2 separate regions of the Homo sapiens genome follow, and region 1 is linked to region 2. A link means that fine-mapping ties the variant in region 2 to the expression of a gene that starts in the linked region. Tissue or cell type: neutrophils. Region 2 holds a variant in brackets; the other region holds the start of a gene. All regions are shown on one strand. Distances are between the middles of the regions. Region 1 holds the start of AGPAT4 (1-acylglycerol-3-phosphate O-acyltransferase 4). Region 2 overlaps AGPAT4 (1-acylglycerol-3-phosphate O-acyltransferase 4).

Evidence for each region. PIP is the estimated chance that this variant, and not a neighbour inherited with it, causes the effect.
Region 1: AGPAT4 starts here. The variant in region 2 is fine-mapped to the expression of AGPAT4 in neutrophils (BLUEPRINT, PIP 0.95).

What each region holds. Positions count from the first base shown.
Region 1 is chr6:161,272,696-161,275,610 of GRCh38, reverse strand. It overlaps AGPAT4 (1-acylglycerol-3-phosphate O-acyltransferase 4), which reads left to right and starts at 1,550. Exons shown (of 9, transcript NM_020133.3): 1 at 1,550-1,673.
Region 2 is chr6:161,207,054-161,209,968 of GRCh38, reverse strand. The region is part of intron 2 of AGPAT4 (1-acylglycerol-3-phosphate O-acyltransferase 4); the gene reads left to right. Among named protein-coding and RNA genes, the nearest start is that of AGPAT4-IT1, 47 kb to the right of the region's middle. The variant T/AT (reference allele first, on the strand shown) is at 1,490.

The DNA of each region.
Region 1 (2,915 bases), 66 kb before region 2:
AGGATAAAAGTTACAATTGTCCAAATTTTAAATTTCCTATCATTTCCACTGAAATCACTGACTGTACTTATAACATTATCAGGAATTTATGCAATTTGTAGGTTTTGAAATAAATTACCATTCAGAATTCAACCGTGAAAAACAGTGTAACTCTACTTGAAAAACACTTTGAAAAACTCAAGTTTCCACCAAATCTAGAAGCACATGGGTCGTAAAACATAGTTCGAAAAGTTACGAGAGATGATGACTACAAGGAACTTTTTATAAAAATCTTTTATAAGCATTACTCTGTGGTCAAATTTATTTTCACATGGATATTAAAACAAGTTATTGCTACAAATGGGTTTCTGTTCTGATCCTTTTTTTGTTTGCCTCACATATCCTTTCTCTTCCACCACATTCTGCTTCACTCTCCCCGTCTCTCATCACAGACAAGAAAAATGCCACCTCCCATAGGACCCACTCCAAACCCTGTTTCCTGAATGATCAATGCCTTCCCCCATCGCAATCAAAAAAGCACTTTCTATTCTGTCTTCATGACACACTGGTTTTGACACTTGCATAGCTGTTAGTAATTCTGCAATGTGCTTGGGCTATTTGTGAGCACATGTATTTTTCCTTTATAGATTATAAACATCTAAAGAACAAGGTTAACCCAGGAGTCAAGTAAATAGTTAAATATTATTTTGACAATGGCTGTAATAGTGGACATTTGAAAGGAATACACCTCAGTATTTTGAAATTGAAATAATTTTCTAGATCCTGGCATTTCTGGACTTTCAACAGCCCACCCTTTTTAAAAATTGTGAAGACACTTTTACTATAAAGGTCTGCCCAGACCCTCTCTGATACACCTGTGTAAATGCCACGTGCATGTGAGCATGCGACAGTACGTGTGTGCACGCCTGTGCAGTGGTAATCAACCATGGTGCTAAGGTTTGAAAACAGAAAATACATCAATCGACCTCCAAGCTTCTTTCATCCCACTTCATAACATCTCAATCTCTTGAGTGCTGAGGCTTATTTTGTTTAAGATGATTTGGACTCTTCTGAGTGCAACGCAATCTCCTTCCAGCACAGCGGACCGAGGAGAGGTGAGGGGAGAGTTTTGAGGGTGGGCATATTGATCCTACGCTTGCTGAATTAAAAATGAGCCAACTGAGGACAATTTCCAGGTTGCAACACAGACGGAGCCGGAGTCTGGGTTGAGGTTAGAGGAGCCGTTAGGGCGCAGGGATGCAACAGGATTTGGGAGAAAGGGGAGAGAAAGCAAGGCCACTTCCAGGGGGCTTTCATTTTTTTTTTATCCTGGCAGCTTCCCGAGCCAGATTTCAAAAGCGATTTCAAACGTGAAGCCAACTGAAGCACTGCCTTACACTAATTGGAAGGGGAAGGGAGTGACTCATATTACACCAGCTCGCTCTTCCCTCTCGGCAACTGCTAACTTGTAGCTTTAAAAGGAAGTGACATGGGTGGGGAGAGACGTCAGCTGAGGACCACTTTTTTTTTTTTTTTCTTCCTGAAGGGTCCACCCCATGGGTGGAGTCTCGCTTTTTCTTTCCAGTGTTGGCTGACTTACAGCTCTTATAAACTAGTGGCAATTTCTGAACCCAGCCGGCTCCATCTCAGCTTCTGGTTTCTAAGTCCATGTGCCAAAGGCTGCCAGGAAGGAGGTATGTGGTCCTGGTGCCGTTCGCAGGCACCTTCCCCGCTGGGTGTGGCTGATGTTTGCATTCCTCTTCCCAGCATATTTTTCTCTCCTGGGCTGGATTTCCTTAGGACCTCTGGAAGGGGTAGGCTCCGGGGGCGGGGGGGGAGTGCAAGGCGGGCGGGGGAAAGGTGCAGGGGGCGCCTGGAGGGAGGCGAAGAGAGGCTCTGCTGGTACAAAAGGACCCTCGCTTTGTGCTGGGCCGGGTGAGCGTCCCTTTCTGGGCTGTGATTTCAAGCTGCTGTTCCTGGCTTCATTTACCCACCCACCCAGCCCCCTCCCGGGGCTAAAGCATTTTCTCTGCTATAGACGAAGCTGGGCGGGGGGTGGTGGTGGGGGGAATGTTCCTATTACATATTGCTCTCTTTTGTGTCATGCAACATGTTCTTCCGTCGCTGACGTTTCTATGGCAACCACAAAAATACTACACAATATGCAGCCCCGATATACATTGATTTATTTGTATTTTGTGTCTAGTTTGCAGCTTTCTGCTCTGCTTCTTGCTTTGGTTTGCTAAAATCCAGCATGGCTTGTGGCTACCCCTCCTCACTTTCATTTTGGTTTTTCCCTATCACAGGAGGGGTGGGGGAGGGGAGTTGTCAAGGAAACAGGCATTGGTAATTACCTCTCTATTTACCTAATTTTCGGCCTATGAATTTCTCCATATCGAGGAATTAAAAAAAGAATGCTTTGATGTTTATGTAAGTCTTCAGTGTCTGGTCTTTTTTTAGAAAACCTAAACACTTCTTAAGATAAGATATTGATCCTGTGGTCAAGCTAAGGGGGAATTAATTCCTTACAGGAGGTGAGATCATTGAAATAAAGTTTTAGAGAGCATTGGAGAATTCGCACTGATAAATGTGATATTGCCTGCCCAGGTTTGCCTAAAAGCTTAAATATTTAAAAGATGGGTCTTTGCTCTCATCTGCACTTATTTAGCTCCAAATCTTAAGTTCAACAAGTATGAGTAACAAATTAACTGCCGGGCAGGATTCTCCGTTTTTCGTTTTCGTGCATTGTTCTTAGATGGATTAGCCACGCTATTCACTCTCTTCAAGGTGAGGGTTGCTAGACTTTTTCAAAACTGTGGAAGGATTAACTCATCTGTGATTAGTCAACGACTCTCAGTTGGAAAAAAAGTATCTTGAGAGAAGGGAGAATGTGTGTGTTTGTGTGTGTGTGTGTGTGTGTGTGTGTTTAGGGAAAT
Region 2 (2,915 bases):
CTCTGTTGCAACTATTTTAGTCAAAACAAAACAAAACAAAACGAAACAAAGGGGTCTTGGCTATCTATGTCTCTGTGGTGTGAACATACCAGTGCCCTGTTTCACCTCCTGATATTTCTGTTCTTCATCACATCCTGCCTGGTCTCTGACCAATCATCTATTTATGCCTTGATTGACTTAATTCATTTATTCAACAAACGTCGGTTGAACACCTGCTTAAGGTACATACTGTTCCGAAAGCTGGACAGACAAATGAGGACCCATTCCGTGCTCTTTTGGGGCTTATATCTCCATGGGAAAATCGAAGGCTTTGCCTGTCTGACCCTCGAGGAGCCTGTTCGGGTCTGACATGGAGTCTTGCTATGAACATGCTATGAACATGCTCAATTCAGGTCTCTCCTGGTCTGTGCTTTCAGAGTCCCCCTGTTCTACTGGTCCCAACTCCTCATTATGCCCAAGGCTGTGGAACAGAGTATCAGGATCAGCAACAAAGGGAACAGAAAAGTTCCCTTCTCTTTCTGGCTTTGTTAGAACAATCAACGTATTTTACAGCTAAATTTGCAAAAAATTTTCTAGCAGCTTGGCAAGGCTTTCCTCATAGAGGAGTGGTAATGAAGCCCTTTTATCCAGCTCCATGGCTCATACAGTGTCACAGCTGTTGGTGAAATTGATAGGTGCCCATGGATTAATTCAAGCCCAGTAGAGAAGAAAGCAGCCATCACCTCCAAGCAAGCCTTTGGGATTCCTCATTGTGGCTTTCTGCTCAGCTCTTCTCCAGAGGGTGCTGGAGTGGGGGAACTCATGTCACTCATCAAAGTTCCACTTCGATGAGGAATGCCTCATTCTAGCACCAAAGTGATGTCTGCCCACTTATCACCAGGTTTCAAGCTGATTTATGGGCAACCCAACTTCTTTCATTTGGTTTACACTTTTTTTTCCTTGAAAGTCAGCCTTTCCTGTTCGATGTGCGTTTTCTTCCCCAGTAATTAACACAAGGTCATGATTGCCGTTTTAGGGACTCTTTCTGGTGTGGGTTTGCTTGTGTTCCCCAATGGTAGTTCTGATTACATTGTTTCACCTGATTATTAATGATTTTTTTCCTGTTAGGCAGCTGTGCATTTCATCCTGGCCTTCGGCTTGAATTGTTACAAATTATGAATTGATAGACTTCAAATCAAATTTTATTGTGCCTTATGTAAATACTTGGGAAATAATTTTTTATTTAAATAAATCAGCACCAAATAGTTTTCTTTTGAACACATAGACTTCTTTTGCATTTCTTTTTTCTGAATTGTTTTTCTGTTGCTGTGAATCTTGAAGATCTAAGTGATGAATGATAGTTACCTTTTTTTAACCAAGTTGTTCATTGCAAGTATTTTTTTGCTATCGTTGTTTTAAGTGAATTCAAATTTGACCTAAGGAGACAGTGGTTATCATATGCGTTATTGGGTTTTGTCTTAAACTTTGTGAACATTATGGAAAAAAAAAA[T/AT]GCTTAAACCTGCAGATGTTGGGGGTGGGTGTGTGTGCGTGCATTTGTATACATAAGTGTGTACATGAGTTTAATTGAGCTGTTAAGAACAAGAAGCCTTCAAGGTGGGAACAAAAGGGAGATCTTGCCAAAGCCAGAAAGATGATAAATGTACAAGAGCACATTGTTAGGGAAGTTCCACAGAGGGCGCATCTGGAGAGAGTCTCTGAATACTGAGTAGCTTACTTTTAGTAACAGTGCTTGTCTTGGTAGCTAACGTTCATATAAAAAAGGAGACTGAAATGTAAAATATATACTTGATTTTCAGAAAATCTGTTTTTCTGACAGTTCAGTTTTTTTCTTATTAGAATTGGAACTCAGCCTAGCCTTGTTTTGAACAAGACTAACAGGATTGTGAGGTGGAGGAAATATTAATAATGAAGCCTAGGAAAGGGTTATTACCATCTCTCTCAGCTCTCATTGTTCTACCTCTCATAAGAATATCCAAGATAAAGGTCTTCAAGGCATGCCTTGAATGATCTGCATCCGTCTTGCTAAGCCTTGGGCTCCTACTCAAGCTTCAGGCTGTTTTCCACTCCTGGCTGGGGCCACACTCCTGTCCCCACCCACTCAACCTGCTGCTCAGAATCCCTCTCTCCCCTGCAACTCCTCCTCCTAGGACTTCTCTTTCCCTAACACTGGGTCACTGAATCTTGCTCTCAGTGAATTCATGTTCCTTGCCCCATATCCAACCTCCACTCCATCCCCATTTCCCCTCTACTATTCTACCTTTCCTTCTATTATCAAAGGAATATCGCTTTCTAACATACTAATTCATTTACTTTTTATGGCGGTGGTTTACTGTCATCTCTCTCCGCCTCCGCAGGTCCCCATTCACTGGAAGTGGAGCTTGTTGGAGGGATCTCTGTCTAGGGCTCCAGCTATAGAGAGCAGTGCTTTGTACCTTGCAGGCACTGATAAATATTTTTTGAAAGCATAAATTCCTTGCACTACACTTGTTTTATCTTCTTACTAAATGTGTTCACCCAGCTTTATAGCATCTTCACAGCATGGCCCAGCGTGCTGCATGGTAATTGGTACCCAAAAAAGCCTGGAGACTGATCACGTAACCCAGGAGTTTTGTTTTCTCACGGATCCTGTCTTTGTGTTAGGCAGGGCACTGGTACTCACTGGAGAGAAGAGGGATACAAAAAGAGCATTTAGGAGCGAGAGGAGCTCTTATATCTTCAATGACTGATTTCATTACTACTTTTAAGCAGTTAAAGACATTTAGCAATTTTACTTCCAGAGGATTTCTGGAATCACTAATTGATTGTCCACACTTCTTTGCAAAAGAGAGATAACACTGTCTACAAAGATTTGGTAGAAACATAAGACTCTTAAATTCTTATCTGCATTGGAAAAAGTCCCTAGCCAGTAGCTTTAT